5 separate regions of the Homo sapiens genome follow, and all the other regions are linked to region 1. The links come from fine-mapping of genetic effects on gene expression. A gene starts in region 1. Each other region holds a variant in brackets. All regions are shown on one strand. Distances are from middle to middle. Region 1 holds the start of NUP85 (nucleoporin 85). Region 2 holds the start of LOC124904055 (a long non-coding RNA gene). Region 3 has its middle 16 kb from the start of SLC16A5. Region 4 overlaps NUP85 (nucleoporin 85). Region 5 holds the start of NT5C (5', 3'-nucleotidase, cytosolic).

What was found.
Region 2: its variant is fine-mapped to the expression of NUP85 in whole blood (GTEx, PIP 0.98).
Region 3: its variant is fine-mapped to the expression of NUP85 in cerebellar hemisphere (GTEx, PIP above 0.99).
Region 4: its variant is fine-mapped to the expression of NUP85 in blood mononuclear cells (TOPMed, PIP above 0.99). The same link has a PIP of 0.9 or more in T cells, lung and whole blood.
Region 5: its variant is fine-mapped to the expression of NUP85 in lymphoblastoid cells (GTEx, PIP above 0.99). The same link has a PIP of 0.9 or more in tibial artery and tibial nerve.

The regions. Positions count from the first base shown.
Region 1 is chr17:75,202,811-75,207,909 of GRCh38, forward strand. It overlaps NUP85 (nucleoporin 85), which reads left to right and starts at 2,869. Exons shown (of 19, transcript NM_024844.5): 1 at 2,869-2,984. The coding sequence starts at 2,952. RefSeq lists enhancers at 1,674-2,608, 2,609-3,542, 2,701-2,880, 4,968-5,099.
Region 2 is chr17:74,376,249-74,381,347 of GRCh38, forward strand. It overlaps LOC124904055 (a long non-coding RNA gene), which reads left to right and starts at 4,006. Exons shown (of 2, transcript XR_007065898.1): 1 at 4,006-4,092; 2 at 4,758-5,099. RefSeq lists a silencer at 3,268-3,367. The variant C/T (reference allele first, on the strand shown) is at 2,310.
Region 3 is chr17:75,069,118-75,074,216 of GRCh38, forward strand. No RefSeq gene overlaps it. Among named protein-coding and RNA genes, the nearest start is that of SLC16A5, 16 kb to the right of the region's middle. The variant T/C (reference allele first, on the strand shown) is at 2,201.
Region 4 is chr17:75,224,001-75,229,099 of GRCh38, forward strand. NUP85 (nucleoporin 85) reads left to right here. Exons shown (of 19, transcript NM_024844.5): 8 at 1,103-1,237; 9 at 1,342-1,464; 10 at 1,698-1,829; 11 at 2,051-2,157. Among named protein-coding and RNA genes, the nearest start is that of NUP85, 21 kb to the left of the region's middle. RefSeq lists enhancers at 690-1,191, 1,455-2,654. The variant G/A (reference allele first, on the strand shown) is at 2,770.
Region 5 is chr17:75,128,593-75,133,691 of GRCh38, forward strand. ARMC7 (armadillo repeat containing 7) reads left to right here. Exons shown (of 3, transcript NM_024585.4): 3 at 85-1,680. The coding sequence ends at 446. It overlaps NT5C (5', 3'-nucleotidase, cytosolic), which reads right to left and starts at 3,150. Exons shown (of 5, transcript NM_014595.3): 1 at 2,942-3,150; 2 at 2,589-2,689; 3 at 2,453-2,513; 4 at 2,161-2,275; 5 at 1,636-2,050. The coding sequence starts at 3,115. The coding sequence ends at 1,896. RefSeq lists an enhancer at 2,043-2,132 and silencers at 2,169-2,373, 2,743-3,312. The variant C/T (reference allele first, on the strand shown) is at 3,159.

The sequences.
Region 1 (5,099 bases):
TTTTTTTTTTTTTTTTTTTTTTTGAGAGGGAGTCTTACACTGTCGTCCGGGCTGGAGTGCAGTGGTATGATCTTGGCTCACTGCAACCTCCGCCTCCAGGGTTCAAACGATTCTCCTGCCTCAGCCTCAGTAGCTGGGACTACAGGCGCACAACCGCCATGACCAAATAATTTTTTGTATTTTAGTGGAGACGGGGTTTCATCTTGTTGCCCAGGCTGGTCTTGAACTCCTGAGCTCAGGTAATCCGCCCGCCTCGGCCTCCCGAAGTGTTGGGATTATAGGCGTGAGCCACCGCGCCCGGCCTTTTTTTATTTTTTATTTTTTGAGACAGCATCTTGCTCTTGCCCTGTTGCCCAGGCTGAGGCCAGAGATTTTGTTAAATAATGTACACTGTGCCCGGTTCAGGAGCATTAGTTTTATTAGGCTGCATGAAATGTATCCACTTAAGACTTTACCAGGCTGGGTGCGGTGGCTCATGCCTGTAACCCTAGCACTTTGGGAGTCTGAGGCGGGTGGATCACCTGAGGTCAGGCGTTCGAGTCCAGCCTGACCAATATGGCGAAACCCCGTCTCTACTAAAAAATAAAAAATTAGCCCGGCGTAGTGGCGTGTGCCTGTAGTCCCAGCTGCTCGGGAGGCTTAGGCAGCAGAATCGCTTGAACCCGGGAGACGGAGGTTGCAGTAAGCCGAGATCGTGCCACTCCACTCCAGCCTGGCGACAGAGCAAGACTCTGTCTCAAAAAGACAAAAAAAAAAAAAAAAAAAAAAAGACAAAGAAAAAAAAAAGAGAGAGAGAGCTTGTTAGATCTTAGTGCTATATTTCCTTGATTATTTTTATTTTAAGGCTGACAAAATGCCATTTAAGATAATAAAAGTAGTTAAATTGCCTGACCAAGAGCTAGATAACATTGAGGAAAAAGTATTGGCAATATTCTTTGGTCTAATACTGCTATATACCAACCATTTTACCCAATCATTCAAATAGGCTTAGTAATACAAGGGCGAAAAAGGAAAACTACAGCTAATAGTGCTATCCTTGTTCTTTTTTTTTTTTGAGACGGAGTCTCGCTCTGTCGCCCAGGCTGGAGTGCAGCGGTGCAATCTCGGTTCACTGCAAGCTCCGCCTCCCCGGTTCACGCCATTCTCCTGTCTCAGCCTCCCGAGGAGCTGGGACTACAGGCACCCGCCACCACGCCCGGCTGATTTTTTTTTTTTTTTTTTTTTTTTTTTGTATTTTTAGTAGAGATGGGGTTTCACCGTGTTAGCCAGGATGGTCTCTCTCTCCTGACCTGGTGATCCACCCGCCTCGGCCTCCCAAAGCGCTGAGATTACAGGCGTGAGCCACCGCGCCCGGCCTATCCTTGTTCTATATACTGATTACGCATACTATATATGGACCTTTTCCTTCCTCAACCTTTCTATAGATTTCTAAGAATAAGGTTTTGATGAAGTAGTTTATGTATCCTTCTTTTTCAGTTAATCCTAATGGAAAACGGTTGGAAAAATGAAACAATTATCTTACAACTTATTTTTCTCTTTCCTCTCCTCCCCTCTCTCTAAAAGAGTGTGGCTCCTTCCCCTCTCTTTTCCCCTTCCTCTCTCTAGAGTGGTTAACTCTCAAACTGTATTTAACTCTGGAAAAGTTTTCAATTACACAGGCGATAACTCCAACTTGAGGTATAACGGAAACTTATTAAGAGAAAAAGAGCAAAATAATTTTTTTTTGAGACTCAGCAAAATAATTTTTTTTTTTTTGAGACGGAGTCTCCGTCTGTCGCCCAGGATGGAGTGCAGTGGCGCGATCTTGGCTCACTGCAACCTCCGCCTCCCGGGTTGGAACAATTCTCCTGCCTCAGCCTTACGAGTAGCTGGGATTACAGGTGTCCGCCACCACTCCCGGCTAATTTTTGTATTTTCAGTAGAGACGGGGTTTCGCCATGTTGTCCAGGCTGGTCTTGAACTCCTGACCTCAGGTGATCCAACCACCTCGGCGTCCCGGAGTGCTGGGATTACAGGCGCGCGCTACCAAGCACAGCTAATTTTTTTTTTTTTTTTTGAGACGGAGTCTCGCTCTGTCTCCCAGGCTGGAGTGCAGTGGTGCGATCTTGGCTCAATGCAACCTCCACCTCCCGGGTTGGAACAATTCTCTTGCCTCAGCCTTCCGAGTAGCTGGAATTACAGGTGTCCGCCACCACGCCCGTCTAATTTTTTATATTTTTAGTAGAGACGAGGTTTCATCATATTGGCCAGACTGGTCTTGAACTCCTGAACTCCAGTGATCCACCCACCTTGGGCTGCCAAAGTGTTGGGATTAGAGGCTTGAGCCACAGCGCCGGGCCTTCAGGGGTATCGATTTTGTTCCCGTGCCTCTTGTGTGTGTTCTAGTGTGGAAGTGGAGGCGATTGCTTTCCAGCACAAGCCCGTTTGACTGTCGGGGTTTGGACAAGTGGCTGCGACGACACTAAGGTGGAGACCGGGATGTAGCGAGGACTCCCAGAGTTGGGAGACGTTGTACGCTTACTGGGACCTAAATCCCGCACGAGTTCCCACCCAAGTGCCGCCGCCCCAGCCTACGCACGCGCATTCGCACCGTCTCCAGCCCCGGGGTCCTCCTGCCCCTCCCGCCGTCTCCGGGGGCCTTTTCTCCGCTCGGCACCAGGGTGTCCCCGGCGCCGCCTGATCCTGTTAGCGCGGTACTCTGAGTGCAGTCAGTCCTCGGCGCTGTTTTCCCTGATTTGCTGTCGACGCCAGGAAGGAAGGACGCGTGCAGAGGACCGCAGAGGGGTGGCCGTGGCTGAGAGGAGACAGCGCCGCAGCACTGAGGGTTTGGGCTTGCAGGCGCTGCAGGAGACGCCCAGGCGGAGTCTTGTCTCGCAGCCAGCTCTGAGCGGGAGGCCTGAGCGGGAAGCATTGGCGTCCGAGCGACTTCTAGGAGCCTGGGGTTCGGCGCTATGGAGGAGCTCGATGGCGAGCCAACAGTCACTGTAAGGGTACCCCGAACAGGCTTGCTCGTCCTTGCGGGTTGAGAACTGCGTCTGCTTAGTTACTTCAGGCTTGTCTGCTTCCCTAGTGGTCGCGAGGCGCTCGTCCCCTTCCCTCGACTCAGTTGCCACTTTTCCGGAGGTCGCAGTGTTAACGAGGTGCCCGCCCTAGGGTCGCAGTGGTCGCGGGGTTTCTGCCACCAGTCACAAACCCCGGCCTCGAAGGTCCCACTCCGTCCCTTTCCTTCCTTTGTGTTCCTGGCCTTTTTACTTCCCTTGCTTTTCCTCTTGGGCATTAGAGTGGGTTCAGCCCAAGCAGAGGAATTTATATTTTTATTCCAGCCGTATTAAGCTCTGCATCGCGGCACATTGAGCTTCTGCCTGTGTGGCCTAAGGTTTATTCAACGTATTATCTCAGGAGACTATTCCTGTTTTATCGCTGTGCATTCAATTCCATTTGAACTTTGAAGACAGTATGTCAACTGTGGATGATCTGTGATGTGTATAAAAAAAATTCACGCGCTTTATGTACGAGATACCTACCGTTTCTGCTAGTTGGATTGCTCTTGTTTTCCCTCTTGTTAACCAGAAGTGACTGAGGCAGGTCTCAACCGATAAAGGTTTAATTAGCTAAGGTTGAGGATCCAACCGGGAAAAAGCACAGGTCACAGGAGGATCTGAGACCTGTGCTTTTTCCAAAGATGGTTTTGGGAACATCACTAGTTAAAGAGGAAGGAGCTAGCAGGAGGGGCAAAAAAGGGAGGTTAGGCAGTGAGGAGGCAAATGATTACATTCTTGTGAGTCGGTGATTAGCCTCAGTAAATCTGCATTTTACCTGTGAAAAGAGGGAGCAGAGGAAAATTTTATGTATGCATTCATCTCAGGGTAGGTAGAGGGATTATGGTTATTATTACTGTTATTTTTTAGACGGAGTCTCGCTCTGTCTCCCAGGCTGGAGTGCAGTGGCGCGGTCTCGGCTCACTGTAACCTCCGCCTCCCGGGTTCACACCATTCTCCTGCCTCAGCCTCCTGAGTAGCTGGGACTACAGGTGCCCGCCACCACGCCCGGCTAATTTTTTGTACTTTTTTGTATTTTTAGTAGAGACGGGGTTTCACCGTGTTGGCCAGGATGGTCTCAATCTCCTGACCTCGTGATCCGCCCACCTCGGCCTCCCAAAGTGCTGGGATTACAGGCGTGAGCCACCGCACCCGGCCGATTTCTGGTCTTTTACTTGTGAAGATAAGCTGGTAGTTGACATTGTCAGAATCAACAGATCTTGATTTTAGGACTAGTTTATAGGGGCGATGTGTATCCTGAAAATTTTAGAGGCTCACAAGGAATTTCCTTGTGAGCAATTTGTGAGGGAAGCTCTCTGGGGAGATATGTGGCCTTCTTTTTTTTTTCTCTTGAGGCGGAGTTTCCCTCTTGTCGCCCAGGCTAGAGTGCAGTGGTGCGGTCTCGGCTCTCTGCAACCTCCGCCTCCCAGGTTCAAGCAATTCTCCTGCCTCAGCCTCCTGAGTAGCTGGGATTGCAGGCATGTGCCACCATGCCCGGCTAATTTTGTATTTTTTTAGTAGAGACGAGGTTTCTCCATGTTGGTCAGGCTGGTCTGGAACTCCTGACCTCAGGTGATCTGCCGGCCTCAGTCTCCCAAAGTGCTGGGATTACAAGTGTGAGCCACTGCGCCTGGCCTCATTCTTTTTTTGAGACGGATTCTCACTCTGTCACCCAGAGTGGAGTGCAGTGGCGTGATCTCAGCTCACTGCAACCTCTGGCTCCTGGGTTCAAGCGATTCTTCTGCCTCAGTCTCCTGAGTAGCTGAGATTACAGGTGCGTGCCACCACACCCAGCTAATTTTTGTATTTTTGGTAGAGATGGGGTTTCACCATCTTGGTCAGGCTGGTCTCCAAAGCCTGACCTCGTGATCAGCCTGCCTCGGCCTCCCAAAGTGCTGGGATTACAGGCATGAGCCACCGCGCTTGGCTAGGAGTTCGAGATCAACCTGGCCAACATGGTGAAACCCCATCTCTACTAAAAAAATACAAAAATTAGCCTGGTTTGGTGGCGCGTGCCTGTAATCCCACCTACTCAAGAAGCTGAGGCAGGAGAATCACTTG
Region 2 (5,099 bases), 830 kb before region 1:
TCTTAGCTAAAGAAAATCCTTTTTGAAATTCTGAGTTTCTTTCCTAACAATTCCCACCACAGGTTTGATGTGCTGTTTGATCTTACGGTCTATCATTTGTCCTTTGTTAATATCTGAGGATGGTTATTGCTCACATGTCTTTCATTTCTTCCCAAGGGTATATATGATTTTTGCTGTTTGGAAGTTGGTTGACAAATTGTTTTCTGGACTCTATTAGTTTTCAAGGGCTGCATTAAAAAAATACCGCAGACTGGGTGGCTTAAACAACATATGAGTTTTTGTTTGTTTGTTTGTTTGTTTTTGAGATGGAGTCTTACTCTGTCGCCCAGGCTGGAGTGCAGTGGCACAATCTCGGCTCGCTGCAACCTCCACCTCCTGGGTTCAAGTGATCCTGCTGCCTCAGCTTCCCAAGTAGCTAGGACTACAGGCATGCATTACCACGTCTGGCTAATTTTTGTATTTTCAGTAGAGACAGGGTTTCGCATGTTGGCCAGGCTGGTCTCGAACTCCTGACCTCAAGTGATTCACCTGCTTCAGCCTCCCAAAGTGCTGGGATTATAGGCGTGAGCCACCCTGCCTGGCCAGAAATGTGTTTTCTTACAGTTCTGGAGGCTGGAAGTTCAAAACAATGTATTGACCAAATGTAGTGGCTCACACCTATAATCCCAGCACTTTTGAAGGCTGAGGCAGGGGGATCACTTGAGCCCAGGAGTTCAAGACCAGGCTAAACAGCATAGGAAGACCCTGTCTCTACCAAAAATACAAAAACAGCTGGATGTAGTGGAGGATCACCTGAGCCTAGGAGGTCGAGGCTGCAGTGAGCCAAGACCACGCCACTGCACCCCAGCCTGGATGACAGAGTAAAGGGCGACCTTGTCTGAAAAGGAAAAGAAGAAGGTGTTAGCAGCTTGGGTTTCTTCTGAGGCCTCTCTCCTTGCCCTGCAGAAGGTCACCTTCTCCCTGTGTCCCCAGTACCTCAAAATGGGACGGCATTTGAAGATAGGGCCTTGAAAGAGGTGATGAAGTTCAAACGAGGCTGTTACGATGGGCTCTCATCCAACCTGGGGAAGGTCTTCAACATATGAATTTGGGTTGGGGGAAACTATGGGTATTTTAAGGACAAATGTTCCTTGGCTGTGGATCCAGGCTTTAATAAAAGTCACTTTTCTCTTGGCTGTATACGAACTATCCCCACCTTTCTCTTCTCCTTGGCTGGCGTAACAGGACTCAAAGCCAGTCTCGTATCTTTAAACATGATCTCTCCTTTCTTCCTGGAAGATCTTGAAGTTTTTGAAGATTCACCCTTGTTGAACAGGTACCTGGAGGTGGGCCTTTTAATTTCCACACTGAGAGTATCTTTTCATTCAGAAAAGGTTATTTTCTTTCTCGTTCGTTTCCTTCCTTCCTTCCTTTCCTCCCTCCCTCCCTCCCTCCTTCCTTCCTTCCTCTCTTTCTTTCTTTCTGAGTGGGGGTTGCACCATGTTGCCCAGGCTGCTCCTGAATTTCTGGGCTCAAGTGATGTGTCTGCCTCGGCCTCCCAAAGTGCTGGAATTACAGGCCTCTTTTCCTTTTAGGAAACAGGGTCTCGCTCTGCCACCCAGGCTGGAGTGCAGTGGCACGACCACGGCTCACTGCAGCCTCAACCTCCCAGGCTCAAGCAATTCTCTGGCCTCAGCCTCCCAAGTAGCTGGGACCACAGGCATGCACCACCATGCCTCGCTAATTTTTTGTTTGTTTGTTTGTAGAGACGAGGTCTCCCTATGTTGCCCATGCTGGTCTCCAACTCCTAAGCTCAGGCGATCCTCCTGCATCAGCCTCCCAAAGTGCTGGGATTACAGGTGTGAGCCACGGCACTGGCCTTCTTGACTTTCTTAATCACAATTGGGTTTCGGGCCCCCTTTTCCCTCGGCCACTCTTATGTGCTCTCTGGCGGGGTGTCCTGCTGCCACTGGCACCTTTCCTGGCTTCCTCATTGCTCAGACCTCAAACAGCTCTTTCCCTCTGTGTTGGGTTTCCCAGTCGCTCCGGTTTGCAGTGCTATCACTGCACACTCCCCCTTAGCAGCACGTTTCTTTCTTTTTTCTTTTTTTTATGAGATGGAGTCTTGCTCTGTCGCCAAGGCTGGAGTGCAGTGGCGCGATCTCGATCTCAGCTCACTGCAACCTCCGCCTCCTGGGTTCAAGCTATTCTCCTGCCTCAGCCTCCCGAGTAGCTGGGATTACAGGTGCGTGCCAGCACACCCAGCTGATTGTTGTATTTTTAGTAGAGACAGGGGTTTCACTGTGTTGGCCAGGCTGGTCTCGAACTCC[C/T]GACCTCAGGTGATCTGCCCGCCTCGGCCTCCCAAAGTGCTGGGATTACAGGCGTGAGCCACCGCGCCCGGCCTGAGCAGCACATTTCTTTTTGTCTCTGGAATGGATATCAACGCAACCAGGTTGCTTCCGGGGCATGGTCTCAGGCCCCACCACACACGCAGCCTCTGCCCCTCTCTCTGACTCCCATGCTCACTTTGGTCCTCCCCCATGAGTGCTCTGCTCCTCTTCCCCTTCCCCTCTTTTTTTCAGTCCGAAAGAGGAGGCATGCTGGCTGGATAAAAGGGAGCCACATCTGTCGCTTCTGCTCTGGGATCTTTCATGGGAGCTCCAGTCCACAGACATGAGTGTCCCTCGATTCTGACAAGGTGACAAGGCTCCCTTCCTGTCACCATGCCCGGGCCGAGGAGGTGGCTTTACCAGTGGTGGGGTGGGTGACATGATGGGGACGGGGAGACAAGCTTCCAGAGGGATCGTGCAGAATCCATTCAGCACCCTGGCCCAGAAAGCAAGACCATATTTTCCAAATTAAGCATTTAGCCAGCTGGGCACAGTGGTTCAGGCCTATAACCCTAGCACTTTGGAGGCAAGGCAGGAGAATGACTTGAGACCAGGTGTTCGAGAGCAGCCTGGGCAACGTGGCGAAACCCTGTCTCCACCAAAAATAAAAATAAAAAAAATTTAGCCGGGCATGGTGGTGGGCACCTGTAATCCCAGCTGCTCAGGAGGCTAAGGTGGAAGGATCACTTGAGCCCAGGAGTTTGAGGCTGCAGCGAGCTGAGATCACACCACTGCACTCCAGCCTGGACGACAGAGCCAGACACTGTCTCAAAAAAAAAAGAAAACATTGAGCACTTTGGTTGGCCAGATTACAGAGGTGCTGGCTGGCAGGGACCAAGGGACAGCCCTTGGCATGGGGGTGTCTTGGAAATCTTGCTTCCCTGGCCTCCTTGTCGCTGGGGGTGGCCTGAGCTCCCTGGCGGGTTTTCTGCCCACCTCCTCCTTTTGCATGTCCCTGTCAGCTCAGACAGCAGGGGGCGCTGCAGGACTGGCTGGACGGTCGGGCCAGGGAGTGGGAGGGCGGGCCTTTAAGCCAAGGTTCAAAGGAAGATCGAGTTACTGCAAAGAAACTGCCTGCCCTGGGCCAGCAGCCAGCACCGAGTAGTTGGGTGGGAGGGCTTTGTACCCTCTGTCAGTCTCCTCCACCCTAAAGCCACGTCTGCCACGCTGGGGCTGGCCAGCCACGGGGCTGCAGGGCCCTGCAATTTTCTCAGATGACTTTGGTGGTTTCCTGTGCAGAGTGGTGTGAAGGGCCCTTTCATCGTTCATCGCCCTCCTCTCTCCACTCTCCTTCGCAGGGTCCTGCCAGCCCCTCCTGCTGGCCTCGGGTTCTGCTCACCTGCCTTCCCCACTCTGGGGAGCTTGGCCTGCCAGGCTGCGGAGCCTCAGGGCTTCAGTCAGCGTCTCTGGGATCCCAGGACCCCGTCCTCCCAGCCTGGCGTGAGGGGCCGAGTCCTCCCATCCCCCAGCTGAGCCTGGGCAGGACTTGGGTACCCCCACTTCCCACTGCTCCTTCCAGCCTGCCCTCTCTCCACGGTGCTGGAGGTGAAAGAGTTAATCACATCTGTGGCGGCTCCTTCCAGGACTCCTCCAAGATATATATTTAGCAGGCGGGGCGGGGTGGGGCGGGAGAGGCGTGCCAAGATGCCCTGGCACCGCAGCCCCTGCCTTACCACACCGCTCTTCGGAGGGAGGGGCAGGCAGGCAGTGCCACAGGAGCCGGGTAGGATGGAGGAAGGGACCCATCTAGATGGAGGGAAGGGGCAGGTACGGGAGTTGGCTTTAAGTGGCTTTAACCACAGCCTAGGGAAGGCTGCGGTCTCAGAGAGGACTTTGAGGCCCTGTGTGTGGGGTTGGGGGAGGAGCTTGCTCTGTATCCATGAAAGAAGGGCCCAGTGACTCTGTCTCCCAGGGATGTCGAAGGATTGTGGAAAAGGGCTGGAAACAGCTTAACGGTGAAGGTGATGGGGCAGGGCTGGCTAGAAGAGCTTCTACCACCTATTGAAATGGCTGGGACCCCTGACCAGGGAGCACCGTGGGAGCATAGCCCTGGCCAGTCCAGGTGACCACCCTCTCAGAGCTGTGCTTTCATTCTGGGACAGCAGCTCTGGTGTGGCCAGTGGAGACAAGGGCAGACAGGTTTTTCTATGTCCTCCTTAGAGATTATTTCCAAGGACTCTGCCCTCAGGGAGAGCAATGTATTCAGTAGGTAACCACTAGGCGGGACTGGTTGCTAAGGGCTGTATTTTGACTCTAAGTGGGGAAACCTGTGATTCACCTTATTCCAATTCCTCCAAGTACCTGGGACCTCTGGAGGTTCAGTTCACAAGGAAGACGTTTGGTTTGCTCGCTTGCTTTTTTAACGGGAGTGTCTGTACCCTTCCCTAGGTCCCAAGAATAACTCTGCAGATCTTGGCTTCCCAGCCTCAGGATTGTCCCCAGGGACCAGGACAAAGGGCTTGGTCCTATTGGCTTGTCTCCATGGCGCCTCCCTTCTTCTTCTTCCCAGGTGAATGGATCAGCTCAGTTAGACCCAAGAGAGCCTCATGCTTGTCCTAGACCTCATTTTCCCGACCCAGTGGCATTCCAGCCACACCTGCTGAGGCCTTGGGTACCTGCGCATCAGAGTAGCAGCTCCTCCAGCTGGCAGAGAAAGACTTGATTTGCCACAGTTAGCGCGGCCCACTGTGGAAGCAATCCAGGGTTCGCTCACCACCCAGCCATGCCAGC
Region 3 (5,099 bases), 130 kb before region 1:
ATAAAATTTTTTTTTTAATTAGCCAGGCGTGGTGACACATGCCTGTAGTTCCAGCTACTCAGGAGGCTGAGGTGGGAGGATCACTTGAGCCAAGGATTTCAAAGCTGCAGTGAGCTGTGCCCTCTAGCCTGAGAGACAGAGTGAGACACTGTCTCTCTTTTTTTTTTTTTGAGACGGAGTTTCACTCTTGTTGCCCAGGCTGGAGTGCAATGGTATCATCTAGGCTCACTGCAACCTCCGCCTCCCAGGTTCAAGCGATTCTCCTGCCTCAGCCTCCCGAGTAGCTGGGATTACAGGCGTGTGCCACCACATCCAGCTAATTTTTGTATTTTTAGTAGAGACAATGTTTTACCATGTTGGCCAGGATGGTTTGATCTCCTGACCTCGTGATCCACCCGGCTCGGCCTCCCAAAGTGCTGGGATTACAGGCGTGAGCCACTATGCCCAGCCAGAACCTGTCTCTTAAAAAAAAAAAAAAAAATTGGCCAGTTACCATGGCCCACACCTGTAATCCCAGCACTTTGGGAGGCTGAGGTGAGAGGATTGCTTGAGGCCAGGAGTTCAAGACCATCTTGGGCAACATAGCAAGACCTGTCTCTACAAAAGAAAAAAATTTTTGTTAATTACTCCTAATTCGGTTGGTGTAATACACAACACCTAGTTGGTGACGGGCAGCTCAGGCCACAGGGTCACTTGATGTCCCATGAACTAGGTGTTCCATCTCGGTCAGGGCCCAGTGAAATAGTTACTTGCAAAAGAGGACATGGACCTGCCCAGAACCCTGGAGTTCTGCATGGCCACAGTCCAGTTGGGACTTGCAGGAGGCTCTGATACAGCATCTGTACTGGCAGGAGATAATTTCAGTATCACTGGATCTCCCCAGCCATAAAGCCCAGGTGGCAGCACAGAGCTAAATTTTTAATAAGAGTCATACCACACAGAAAGATTTTCATCAGTAAAGCTTTCCCCTGGAGTAAACTGTTACTCCATGAAGCCAGATTAATTCCTTGATCAATTTTCTATACAGGGCAATTAAATTGCTTCTAAGTTTTATATTTTCATTTTAATTTTTACTTAAATACTTTCATTAAGATCATGGTTTTCCTAGAATCTTTCTGAACTTACTCTGATTCAGAGGACTGCCCAATTAAAAAAAAAAAAAGACTGGGGCCGGGCGTGGTGGCTCACGCCTGTAATCCCAGCACTTTGGGAAGGCAAGGTGGGCAGATCACCTGAGGTCAGGAGTTCGAGACAAGCCCAGCCAATATGGTGAAACCCCGTCTCTACTAAAATACAAAAATGAGCCAGGCATGGCGGCAGGTGCCTGTAATTCCAGCTACTCAGGAGGCAGAGGCAGGAGAATCACTTGAACCCGGGAGGTGGAGGTTGTAGTGAGCCAAGATCACGCCACTGCACTCCAACCTGGGCAACAGAGTGAGACTCTGTCTCAAAAACAAATAAATAAATAAAAATAAAATATCGGCCAGATGTGGTAGCTCATTTGTGTAATCCCAGCCCTTTGGGAGGCCGGGGCAGGTGGATCGTATTCGAGGCTGCAGGGAGCTATGATTGTGCCACTGTACTCCAGCCTGGGCAACAGAGTGAGAAACCCTGTCTCAAAAAAAGAAAAAAATATATGCTTGGCCAGGAGAGGTGGCTCATACCTATAAACCCAGGTACTTGGGAGGCTGAGGTGAAAGGATTGCTTGAGCCTGGAAGGTCAAGGCTTGCTTGCTTGCTTGCTTGCTTGCCTGCCTGCCTGCCTGCCTGCCTTCCTTCTTTCTTTCTTTCGAGGCTGAGGTAAAAGGATTGCTTGAGCCTGGGTGGTTGAGGCCTTTCTTTCTTTCTTTCTTTCTTTCTTTCTTTCTTTCTTTCTTCTTTCTTCCTTCCTTTCTTTCTTTCTGTTTCTTTCTTTCTTTCTTTCTCTTTCTTTCTTTCTCTCTTTCTTTCTTTCCTTCTCTCTCTTTCTCTCTTTTTTTTTTGATGGAGTCTTGCTCTGTTGCCCAGGCTGGAGTGCAGTGGCACCATCTTGGCCCATTGCAACCTCCACCTCCAAGGTTCAAGCGATTCCCCTGCCTCAGCCTCCCGAGGTAGCTGGGATTACAAGCGCCCGCCACCACACCCGGCTAATTTTTGTATTTTTAGTAGAGACGGGTTTTTGCCATGTGGGCCAGGCTGGTCTCAAACTCCTGACCTTAGG[T/C]GATCCACCTGCCTCGGCTTCCCAAAGTGCTGGGATTACAGGCCTGAGCCACTGTGCCCAGCCGTGTGAGGGTATTTTCAACCGTCCGTCTGTCAGCTCTTAGGACACATTCCCAGAAGAATAGAAAGATAGTTTATGTAGAAATACATGTGAAGTGTCATTAGTGGAAAAAAAATTTTTTTAAACAAAGTATGTAACCATATTTAGCTGTATAAGAGAAATTTATTTGTGCACACAGTATAAAGTTAATTTTTCTTTTTTTTTGAGACAGAGTTTCACACTTGTTGCCCAGGCTGGAGTGCAATGGCACTATCTCGGCTCACTGCAACCTCCACATCCTGGGTTCAAGTGATTCTCCTGCCTCAGCCTCCTGAGTACCTTGGATACAGACATGTGCCACCATGCCTGCCTAATTTTGTATTTTTAGTAGAGACAGGGTTTCACCATGTTGGTCAGGCTGGTCTCGAACACCTAACCTCATGTGATCGCCCACCTTGGCCTCCCAACGTGCTGGGATTACAGGCCTGAGCCATCGCATCCAGCCTAAAGTTAATTTTTTCAAGGATTTAAATACATCTTTTGTAAGGTTTTTAAAATAAAGGCAGATTGAGTCAAGTTTATTGAAACTTTACATGGAGGGAAAGAATATGCTAATTTGACATTTTAGAGAAGTTTAAATGCAAGCGTTTGTTGTCCCAGCTTAGAGATTGGTGGGTGAGGTCTGTGTGTGTCATTTTCATGTTCCAAAACGGTGAGCTTTATCTTATGTTATTTTTGGTGGATGTTGACTTAGTTCATGAATGTTGTCACTTCTAAATGTGGACAGTTGGGCTGGAAGATAACACAGCCTCTTCCGGAGCCTAGTAATCCCTGCCAAGCCCCCATCAGTCATATTTCTAAATGAAGACATTATTTTGTTCACATTTCCTTGGAAGAAAATTAAGCAGCTATTAAAGTCATGGTCACCAGGGTCATGTTGTGGCATAAAAAGTACTAGTGAGTTAAATAAGGATTCAGAATTGTATGTATGAAACCTCTATCAACATATCAAAATCCAAGCGCATCACTTTAGGTTGTGTGACTCTCCCCCTTTCCTCCATTTTCCTTTCTTTTTTTTTTGAGATGGAGTTTCTCTCTTGTCGCCCAATCTGGAGTGTAATGGCACGACCTCAACTCATTGCAACCTCTGCCTCCTGGGTTCAAGCAATTCTCCTGCCTCAACTTCCCAAGTAGCTGGGATTACAGGCACCTGCCACTTCGCCCAGCTAATTTTTGTATTTTTTGTAGAGACGGGGTTTCACCATGTTGGCCAGGCTAATTTTGAACTCCTGACCTCAGGTGATCTGCCTGCCTCAGCCTCCCAAAGTGCTGGGATTACAGGCGTGAGCACTGGTGCCAGGTCGCCTCCATTTTCAAATTGTGTTTAAGGCTGGGAGCCGTGATTCACACCCGTAATCCCAGCATTTTGGAAGGCCGAGGCAGGCAGATCATTCGAGGCCAGGAGTTCAAGACGAGTCTGGCCAACATGGTGAAACCCCGTCTCTACTAAAATATACCAAAAAAAATAAAATTAGCCAGACGTGGTGCCGCACGCTTGTAATCACAGCTACTCAAGTAGCTGAGGCATGAGAATCAAGAATCGCTTGATCCGGGAGGCAGAGGTTGAAGTGAGCCAAGACTGCACCACTGCACTCCAGCCTGGGCAACAGAGTGAGACTCTGTCTCAAAAAAAAAAAAACCAAATTGTGTTTAATATACTGTATATATATATATATACATATTTATTTATTTATTTATTTATTTATTTATTTATTTATTTATTTTGAGTCTCTGGATGGCAGTAACTCAGTCTCAGCTCACTGTAACCTCCACCTGTCAGGTTCAAGCAATCCTCCTGCCTCAGCCTCCCAATTAGCTGGGATTACAAGCATGCACCACCACGCCCGGCCTATATATATATATACTTTTTTTTTTTTGAGATGGAGTCTTGCTCTGTCGCCCAGGCTGGTGTGCAATGGGGTGATCTTGGCTCACTGCAACCTCTGCCTCCCAGGTTCAAGCTATTCTCCTGCCTCAGCCTCCTGAGTACCTGGGATTACAGGCGCGCGCCACCACACCCAGCTAATTTTTGTATTTTTAGTAGAGACGGGGTTTCACCGTGTTGGCCAGGATGGTCTCGATCTCCTGACCTCAAGTGATCTGCCCCCCTGGGCCTCTCAAAGTGCTGGGATTTACAGGCGTGAGCCACCTCACCCGGCTGACACTTTTTTCATTGCAAGATTTTGTAGCCTCAGCTACTCAGGAGGCTGAGGTGGGAAGATGGCTTAAGCTGGGAATATGGCTTCAGCCAGGGAGGCAGACAGAGGTTGCAGTGAGCTGAGATTGCACCACTGTGCTCCAGCCTGGGGGACAAAGCGAGACACTGCCTTAAAAAAAAAAAAAAGACTTTGTCAGTGAAGGAAGGACTACATTGATTTACAACCTGGCATGAGCTTCTTATGTTGCTAAGAGCCAGCAGTGGTTCATGGACAGCACTTGGAATTGCACTGTTGTGTAATATAACAATGAAAATCCCCGTTGCTGGGATAGGTGGAGACTAAAGGCTTATGTGGGACTTGGGCCTGGCAGCACTGCCGCAGGGCGCCCACACGGCTGTATACCTGCTATGCCCCTTCTGGCCCTGCTGCCTCCTGAGCTCTCCAAGGCCCTTTCCTGTGGCCTGAAACCCTATGATCATCACTGTTAGGAGCAAATAACCTGATTCCTTCGAATTAGAGACAGGCTCTCAGGGAGTGGGAGCAGCCCTCCAAGCAGAGGGCTAGGCCGTGGGCCATCCAGCACTGCACCCTCATTCTCATTAAGCTGAGCAGAAGAATGAATGAGGGATGTCTCTTCTGGG
Region 4 (5,099 bases), 21 kb after region 1:
CTCTTGGGGTTGTAGCTAACTGTATTAGCAATTTTGTTTTATTTTGTTTTGTTTTGTTTTTTTGAGATGGAGTCTCACTCTGTCATCCAGGCTGGAGTGCAGTGGCACAATCTCAGCTCACTGCAACCTCCGCCGCCCAGATTCAAGCGATTCTCCTGCCTTAGCCTCCCAAGTAGCTGGGACTACAGGCGCCTGCCACCACGCCTGGCTAATTTTTTGTATTTTTAGTAGAGATGGGGTTTCACCATGTTAACCAGGATGGTCTCGATCTTCTGACTTTGTGATCTGCCCGTCTTGGCCTCCCAAAGTGCTGGGATTACAGCTGTGAGCCACCACGCCCAGCCCTGTATTACCAGTTTTAATCTGAATCCACTGGTGAATGGGACGATTTTGCTTTTGTTTCTTGGCCAGGAATTGCATGATCCTGGACATTTTGTGAGAAGATGGTGGGAGAAATAATCAACAGCACACACCATGATGGTGGAGAAGGGGTGGGGGGAAGCAGGTAGAGGAACATGTTTTTCTGTTTCTTTCATTTTTGAAAAGCTGGGGCTGAGCGTGGTGGCTCACGCCTGTAATCCCAACACTTTGGGAGGCCGAGGCGGGGAATCACTTGAGGTCAGGAGTTCGAGACCAGCCTGGCCAATATGGTGAAACCCCATCTTTACTAAAAACACAAAAATTAGCTGGGCGTGATGGCATGCGCCTGTAATCTCAGCTACTCGGGAGGTTGAGACAGGAGAATCGCTTGAACCCGGGAAGTGGAGGTTGCAGTGAGCCGAGATTATGCCATTGCACTCCAGCCTGGGCAACAAGAGGGGAACTCTGGAAAAAAAAAAAAAAAAGGTGGTCACAGGCTATAATGGACTACAGCTGGCTGTTTGAAAAACATAGTGGAGGTGACAAAGCCATGAGATTGGATGTGATAGATTACTTCTGGAGGGAAAGAGCCATCATTCTTCCCAGGGCAGACTCAGGTGCAGAAAGAAGCCTGTGTGTGAAGAGTTAAAAAGCCAAAGTGTGGGGTGAGGGGACTGGCCTCCTCACGCCTCGGCAGGGCCAGGCCTCCTGCCAATGCTTATGGGCCCGGATCTCCTCCCAGGTGACCATCTTGGTGCTGCAGGGCCGGCTGGATGAGGCCCGACAGATGCTCTCCAAGGAAGCCGATGCCAGCCCCGCCTCTGCAGGCATATGCCGAATCATGGGGGACCTGATGAGGACAATGCCCATTCTTAGTGTACGTGGGGGTAGCTTTGCTCTGCTGGGTCACAGGAGATGCGTGATTCACTAAATATAAAGGGTGTGGATGGGATGACGTCTCATGGCTGGTCTCTCCCTTAGCCCGGGAACACCCAGACACTGACAGAGCTGGAGCTGAAGTGGCAGCACTGGCACGAGGAATGTGAGCGGTACCTCCAGGACAGCACATTCGCCACCAGCCCTCACCTGGAGTCTCTCTTGAAGGTCTGGGAAGCAGTTCAGATTGCATCCATGTTGGCTTCCTATGGGGGCTGTGGCATCCAGTGCAGCAGTGGCAGGAGCTTGGTCCTCCTTGGATAGGGCTGTCTGTCGCTCTGCCGTGATGGCGAGAGCTTTCAGACTAGTTGAAATCCGGTGCCCTTAGCTGAGAGCAGGAGCATTATGGAGAAGGTACCCCTGAGAGGAGGACAGAGTTCAGCACAAATGTCTCTCCTCAGATTATGCTGGGAGACGAAGCTGCCTTGTTAGAGCAGAAGGAACTTCTGAGTAATTGGTATCATTTCCTAGTGACTCGGCTCTTGTACTCCAATCCCACAGTAAAACCCATTGATCTGCACTACTATGCCCAGGTGAGTGAGCTCGGGGTGGGCAAGGGTGGGGGTAGGAGTCCTGGGGGCGCCCTGATGGGTCATTCTCTTTGAATTCCTCCCTGAGGAACAGGAAGACCCTTTCCTTTGGCCCTTAGTGAAAGAACAAGGCACCTTCTCTGGGGTTCGTTATACAGCAGCCCTGCCTGCCCCGAGTCTCTGCTTCCGTCCTCAGGATTGAGTGTCTCATCACCTTTCCACAGTCCAGCCTGGACCTGTTTCTGGGAGGTGAGAGCAGCCCAGAACCCCTGGACAACATCTTGTTGGCAGCCTTTGAGTTTGACATCCATCAAGTAATCAAAGAGTGCAGGTAGGATCTCTCCCACCCCCCACTGTAACCATTTTTAGGTGTACAAATATCACCACCTTGCGTTTCTAGAGTGGCCTGTTCCTTCCTTACCCTTCTTCCCTCAGACCTGCTATCTTAGTCCATCTCACGCTGATATTACAGAATACCTGAGACCAGATAATTTATAAAGAAAAAGATTATTTTCTCACCGTTCTGGAGGCTAGGAAGTCCAGGATCAGGGCACTGGCAATGTTGCTGGTGAGGGCTGCTCTCTGCTTCCAACATGGCACCTTGAACACTGTGTTCTCATGTGGTGGAAGGGCAAGAAGGACAAACTCCCTTCATCAAGTCGCTTTATAAGGGCACCCAATCACATTCATGAGGGAGGATGTGGCCTAATCACCTCCTGGCCTAATCACCTCTTAGAGGCCCTACCTCTTAATACTATCACATTGGCAAAACTGGGGTTTTAGAGGGGATCCCTTCAAACCATAGCATCTGCTCCCCTGCTTGACTTGCCACAGGTAGATAATGGCTTTTCTCTGGGTGAGCTTAGGGACTTCCTGGAGGCTTGAGGGCTACCATATACATAACTGTTTCCATTTCAGGGATGTTCATTTAAAATAACATCGC[G/A]GGAAACTACTTTGACATTTAAAATCTAGAAAAAGCCAGCAAGCCTGTTTCTTGGCACCTAATGGACACCTTATGGGATGGCGTGTTCCAAGAGTCTCACTCCAGTGACGTGAGCTACCGAACCACTGGGCTTCAGGCTGGGTATTATTCAGAATTTCCAGCCCTCTATCCAAAAGAGGGTGTTCTATGATTGCACTGAATCTTTAGCAAGGCAGGAAAGGGAGTGCCAAACATAATCAATCAAAGGTAAACCTTTCCAGAACTCTCCATATATGGTAAGTCAGAAAGAAGGTCCCCTTCCTTGTTGTGCACCCTGGATGGTGGGCATTGCACTGAAGACGTGCTGGGAAGGGAGGAAGTGGGTAATGGCAGAAGATGGCCTTGATCAGGTGTCAGATTCACTGACCTCAACTGGCTGTTTGTAGATCTGGGCATGGGAAGAGTTTCCTTCGCCCTACCTGCTTTTCTTGTTTTGGCCAAAAGAATGCCAGGGCTTCAAGAAAATGATACTAGATTTGGGGAATGAAAAACAAGTTTTTTGTGTGTTTGTTTCTGGGTTTTTTTTTTTTTTTTTTTTTTTTTTGAGACAGAGTTTTGCTCTTGTCACCCAGACTGGAGTGCAGTGGCGTGATCTTGGCTCACTGCAACCTCCACCTACTGGGTTCCAGCAATTCTACTGCCTCAGTCTCCCAAGTAGCTGGGATTACAGGTGTCCGTCACCACGCCCAGCAAATTTTTGTGTTTTTCAATAGAGACAGGGTTTCACCATGTTGCCTAGGCAGGCTGGTCTGGAACTCCTGACCTCAGGTCATCTGCCCATCTCGGCCTCCCAAAGTGCTGGGATTACAGGCGTGAGCCACCGCGCCCTGCCAAGTTTTTTTTTTTTGAAACAGGGTCTCACTTTGTCACCCGGGCTGGAGTGCAGTGGAGTGATCTCAGCTCACTGCAGCCTTGACCTCCTGGGTTCAAGTGATCCTCTTGCCTCAGCCTTCCAGGTAGCTAGGACTACAAGTGTGCGCCACCATGCCTGGCTAATTATTATTTTTTTTTTTGGAGAGATGAGGTTTCACTATGTTGCCCAAGCTGTTCTTGAACTTGTGAGCTCAAGCGATCTGCCTGTCTTGGCCTCCCACAGTGCTAGGATTACAGGCGTAAGCCACCATGCCCGGCCTGAAAGTCAAGTTTTGTGTCAATATTTTCACAGGCCTGTAAACATTGTGAGAAGTCCCTGCATGGAAGAATTAGTGAGAATAACTTAAAAACACACAAACACACCATCGTTTGGCTTTGTTGGTGTCTCTGCCCATAGTTGAGTATTCTAAATTTCCTGTGTTATAACAGTGAGTGAGTTTCACCAGGGCTTCCTAATTTATAAGCCCTGTATCTGGATTTTTAGGAATAAAACAGATTTGAGCAGAAGAAGTCTGTTGGATGCAGGGAGTATAAAAGGGGAAAGCATCCTGCTGTTTCCAGTGGCAGAAGAGAAAGAGAAGTACCATGAAGAGGGGTGAACAACATCACTCTCGTGCCGGACACAGACAAGGAATGATTAGGCTTGCAGTCCCCCAGTCTCAGCCTCTCTCCACTCTCACAAGCAGGAAGGGATCTGAGCTCTGTTAGTGGGAAATCTTGGAGTTTGCATTTCTCTGATCACGAGGCTACCTCCTATCCTGTTTTGAAAGAGGAACAGAAAAGCAGAGCTTGTCCCAGGAATTGTGAAATGGGCTGCAATGTCTTCAGAGGCAGTAGCAGTTTTAGGAAGTGTGCCCTCCTGGCTCTGGGGAAAGGTTGAATTGGGGTCTTGTGGGCACTTGTTTTCTCATGGGATGTATCAGTCAGACCCATGCACAGTTCTGGGCGGCAGGGAAGTGTGTCTCTTTCTGGACTTGAGCCAGTGAGCTGTTGGCATGCCTTTTTAAAGGCATTAGAAAAAAGGTTTCTTTCTTTTTTTTCCTTTCCTGTTCACACCACCTTCATATGAACATGGAGAAGGGAGGTTTCTAAGTGGGCCCCTGATTTACTCCTATGTCAATAATCGTGCCAGACCCTAAGGGGCAGAAAAGGCAGCCAGGGGATCCTGACTCAGAGGCTGTAGTTCGTCAGCCCTGCTAAAGGGCCAGGGGTTTGTCTCTCAGTGCCTGGGTGGGCATGCTTGACTGCTAACCCCTTAGCTGAAAGGAGATGGCAGGAGTCCTCCACAGGGTCCCTTCTTCCCTCCTGGCTTACAGCTTCCTCTGAAGACGGGCCAGTTCCTTGCTGTCTGGCAAGAGGAAACAGCTGGGGTGCACTTCACTGGGAGTTGGGCAAGATGTCGGCAGTTTCCTGGTGCC
Region 5 (5,099 bases), 74 kb before region 1:
GGCCCCTACCTGGGGCTCACGGGCAGGGGAGGTGGGAGGAGGCCCGGGGCTACAGCATCCAGACTCTTCCTTGCTCTCCCACAGGAGGCCTGTGCAACCTGTGCCCAGACAGGGCCAACAAGGAGCACATCCTGCACGCAGGAGGTGTCCCACTCATCATCAACTGCCTATCCAGCCCCAATGAGGAGACGGTGCTGTCTGCCATCACCACGCTCATGCACCTGAGCCCGCCGGGCCGCAGCTTTCTCCCAGAGCTGACCGCCACGCCCGTGGTGCAGTGCATGCTTCGCTTCTCCCTCTCGGCCAGCGCCAGGCTCCGGAACCTGGCACAGATCTTCCTGGAGGACTTCTGCTCCCCCCGCCAGGTGGCCGAGGCCCGCAGCCGGCAGGCGCACTCTGCCCTGGGTATCCCACTGCCGAGGAGCGTGGCCCCACGGCAGCGCTGATCCATGGAGACTGCGAGACCGTGGCACCCCTACTGCTGGAGACCACAGTCCTGATGTGGACGCAGGGAACGGGGAGCACATACTGCCCCATTGGTGCCTTTTCAGCCATCTGAAAGGCGGGTTCTTTCAGCAGGACAGGCATTTACACTGATGAAACGCCACTGGGAGTGAGGAAGCCAGACTCCAGAGACACGGAGAAGATCAAACTGGAGCTGCGTTCATAGGCTGGCACTCTCAATCCTACATCAGGTGCCACCACCACCAGACTCAGGCCCTGGTGTAAGAAGCGGCCAAGTGCCTGGACCCAGAGGCTTTGCAGGACAGTGTTCTCAGGAGCTGGGCCTGAGGCTTAGGAGAGCTGCCTTCGCTGCAGGAAATCAGGGATTATCCCTTAACAGAAGTGTCTGGAGTAGTTTTCAGGTATAGGAATGAGATGCCTCGTGGTGAAAGGATCTCACCCTGGGAAGATGTGGTGCCCCCTCCAGGGCTCTGGAGGATGGATGCCTCCCCCAGGGGCTCTCCAAGCTGGGCATTTGGGCCTGGTGGATGCCAACCTGGATAACCTGTGGCCCAGCATTGACTGTCCACCCAGCCTTGCTGTTAGGCACCATGACTCCAAGATGAAGATGTGGTCCCTGCCCTTGAGTGACAGCCCAGGGACTTAATGTGGCCATCGGGCATCAAGCACAAGGCCATGCAGGTGATGATACGTCGGAATAGAGGCACCAGCCCTGGTAACTGCATCTTCTCCCCTTGCCACCCCATGGCCCCGGCTGAAAGCTTCGGCCCTCCTCTGCTGTCACTCAATGATGGGGAGCCCTACCCCAGAAGTGTATCCCACGAGGGCATCAGGGACGCAGTGAGTGTTGCTCAAGGGAGTCAGGAAGAGACGGCAACGTAAAGGATGTGGCTCCATGTCCATGGTGCCCCCTGGTCAACATAAGGAGCGTGGGATCCGATGGAAAGGTGGAGCTCAGGGAAAATGGGGGTCCTTGCCTCTCGTGTACCCCCTCAAGGCTGACCCCTTAGATGGCCCAGGAATGGCAGGTGCTACAAAAATGGTACCCACGTGGGCATGGAAATGGGGCAGATTAGGGGACCACTGGACTCAGAGGGGAGGGAAGGGCTCATCAGCACCCGCTCAGGGAGCCTGTCCCTTTATGTTCCCAAATAAAGGGTCCTAGAAGACTAGAAAGCCAAGGTCTTTTATTAAAGGTCCCGACTGGTTTTCCCACTGTATTTCCATGCCAGCCAGGGTCCAGGGACAGCCTCTCGGGAGGTACCGGGTGGCTGGGCCTGGGGCCCGGTAGCACAGCGCTTAACGGTATCTGCCTGCTCCACTCCACGGGGCCAGAGGCACCAGCACGATGCCGCCCCGACTCGGCTCTGCGGTGGCCCCTGTGGGCCTGCCCTTCCTTTAGCTCCAGCTGCTGCCCGCGGCATCCCCGCTCATTCCCGCTGCGCAGCTCCGCGCTTGCTATCTAAGATCTCCCTCCAGTTGTCACTCCAGGAGAGCAGCCGTCTCCTTGTCGGGGGCAGGACCAGGTGCCGATTGTGGCAGCAGGTGAACAAGATGTGCTCCCAGCTTGGGGTCTCCTCCTGGCCTAGGACAGTGAAAGACAGCGCGCTGCCATCTGTCATGGGTATTATTACTCCCTCTCCCTAATCCGGGCAGGCCAGAGGCCTGGAGGCTGCCAAGGATAACGGGTCCAACCTCGAACTGTGTCCTTGTCATCAATGAGCAGGTCCCCCAAGACCACCGTCTTGTCCCTTGTCAGGATAATTCGTTCTACGAACTGGGGCCCCAGGTGCTGCTCCACCCAGCGGTACTGTGTAGAAAACACAGTCTGTGAGTAGGGCCTGATGGAAGCCGGAATTCAGGGATAGGGACTTGGCTCTAAGCCCTTGAGAGCCCCCCACCCCCACCTTCTGGGTTTCTGGTGGTTTCTTTTTAAAATCAGGATTTAGGCAGCTCCACGTGCGGAGTAGGGGCGGGGCAGCCACACCTTCTCACCCACACAGTGGTGGTACTTCAGCAGGGGGCTGGTGCAGATGAAGACCTGCGTGCTGCGGAGAAGGACGCGGTTACCGCCGGGAGCCAGGAGCCCGCCCAGGACTCCGCCCGCCCCCCTCTCTCCTTACTCCGGTAGGTCGTTCATCTCCCGCACAGCGTCCAAGGCTCCCGGGATGGGCTCCAGGTCCAGGAAAAAGCCCGGGGCTTCGTACACACTGGCCACTTTATCCTGAAAGACAAGAGTTCTGGGTCCCGGCTTCCCGTTCCCGCGAGGACCCGCAGGGAGGCTCCTGGGGGCTCCGGGCCCGAGCTCAGAGGGGCGGAGGGGGCGTCGGTCAGGGGCACGCGCCCAAAGGCTCCTCCCCAGGGTGCGCTGCCCGCGGGTTCCAGGGTGAGAGCTCTGCGCCCTTCACAGAGAAGGGGGAGACCCCCGGAACGGAGCGAGCGGGCCCTGCCCGGGTGGGGACCCTGCGCCCCCTACCGCCAGGTCGGGCCGCAGGGCGCGGTACTGCTCGCGGGCCAGGAAGCCGCGGCGTTGCTCCAGCGGCACGTGCGGCTCCTCAGGGAAGCGGCGGCGGAAGCCCCGCAGGAGGCCGGCCTCGAAGTCGGCCAGGACGCCGTCCATGTCCACCAGCACGCGCACGCTCCGCGCCATCGCCGCCGGGCCGGAGCTGCGAGCTCTCGGGGTCTGGGGGGCG[C/T]GGGCTCGGCCGGAAGCGGAGGGAGCGCTGCTTCCGGAGTCCGCCGGGCTGATTTGCATAGAGTGTCCGGGCCGCCCCGCCCAGGTCGTAAACCAGTGCCGACGGCCCTGCGGTTGCGCGAGGCCATCCTAGGGTTCGGGTGCAGGGACGGCTTTGGGGGGCACTTTTCTGACCCTGCGCTTCTTCGGGACCCAGCCTTTGTCCCCATCAGCCGCCTCCCACTTTACGGCAGACGTACCCCCGTTCACCCCACGTTACTAGTAGGGGACCGACCTTCCGGGGGCCCAACAAAGGGATGCTCTGAAATACTGGGAAGCATCTAACGAGGAGTCAAGGGTCCTAAACCCGTGGGGCTAGCTCCACATTTTTTTTCTTTTTTTCTTTTTTTTTTTTTTTATTTTGAGACGGAGTCTGGCTCTGTCGCCCAGGCTGCGGCGCAGTGGCGGCGCGATCTCGGCTCACTGCAGCCTCCGCTTCCCGGGTTCAACCGATTCTCTTGCTTCAGCCTCCCGAGTAGCTGGGATTACAGGCACCCGCCACCACGCCTGGCTAATTTTTGTAGTTTTAGTAGAGACGGGGTTTCGCCATGTTGGTCAGGCTGGTTTCAAACTCCTGACCTCAAGTGATCTGCCTGCCTTGGCCTCCCAAAGTGTTGGGATTATAGGCTTGAGCCACCGCACCTGGCCAAAGTCTTATTACCGCAGTACCGTGGTCTCAGTGGATTGCTTTCGTCTGTGCAGTGGAGCAGGAACAATCCCTCGAGGACTACAAAGTGAAATGAATCTGTTAACTGGTTTGTGTAAGTCTAGCTCGTTAAGAGACTAATTCACACTAGAGTTGGCTTGAAACATGGGAGCTTCAAGTGTGGTTTCCCCCGGAAAGATGATTTTGATCAAGCACAGGTAATCAGGACTGTCCTCAGGACTTTATGTGGAACTGACATCGCTTACCTACTCCCGTCTAGAAAATGCTGAACAGGGCCAGGTGCGGTGGCTCACGCCTATAATCCCAGCACTTTGGGAGGCCGTGGCGGGCGGATCATCTGAGGTCGGGAGTTCAAGACCAGCCTGACCAACATGGAGAAATCCTGTCGCTACTAAAAATACAAAATTAGCGTGGTGGCACATGCTTGTAATCCCAGCTACCCGGGAGGCTGAGGCAGGAGAATCTCTTGAATCCAGGAGGCAGAGGTTGCGGTGAGCCGAGATCATGCCATTGCCCTCCAGCCTGGGCAGCAAGAACAAAACTCCTTCTCAAAAAAAAAAAAAAAAAAAAAGAACATGCTGAACTGTGATACATTTTGTTGACTCTTCTTTTTGTGGATGTCATGAAACTTCCTGACTCCACTCAAATCTATTTGCCTACAAACTATAAAGCCAGGCGCCGTGGCTCAGGCTGGTAATCCCAGCACTTTGGGAGGCCCAGGTGGGAGACAGCTTGAGCCCAGGAGTTCAAGACCAGCCTGAGCAACACAGGGAGACCCTGTCTCTACAATAAACAAATCAATAAGCTGGGTATGGTGGCGCATGCCTGTGGTCCTAGCTACTCATGAGCCTTAGGTGGGAGGAACCCTTGAGCCCAGGAAATTGAGGCTACACAGCCTTCATCCTGCCACTGCACTCCAGCCTGGGTGACAGAGGGAGTCCCTGTTGGGGGAGGGGAGAGCCAAAATTATAAACACAGATTTAAGTGGCCCATCTCGCCATTGTTCCCCATCTGATGAACCCACTGCTTCCAAATATATGTAACAGAGGCTGGGCACGGTAGCTCACGCCTGTAATCCCAGCACTTTGGGAGGCTGAGGCGGGCGGATCATGAGGTCAGGAGATCAGGACCATCCTGGCTAACACGGTGAAACCCTGTCTCTACTAAAAATACAAAAAAAAAAAAAAAATTAGCTGGGCATGGTGGCGGGTGACTGTAGTCCCAGCTACTCAGGAG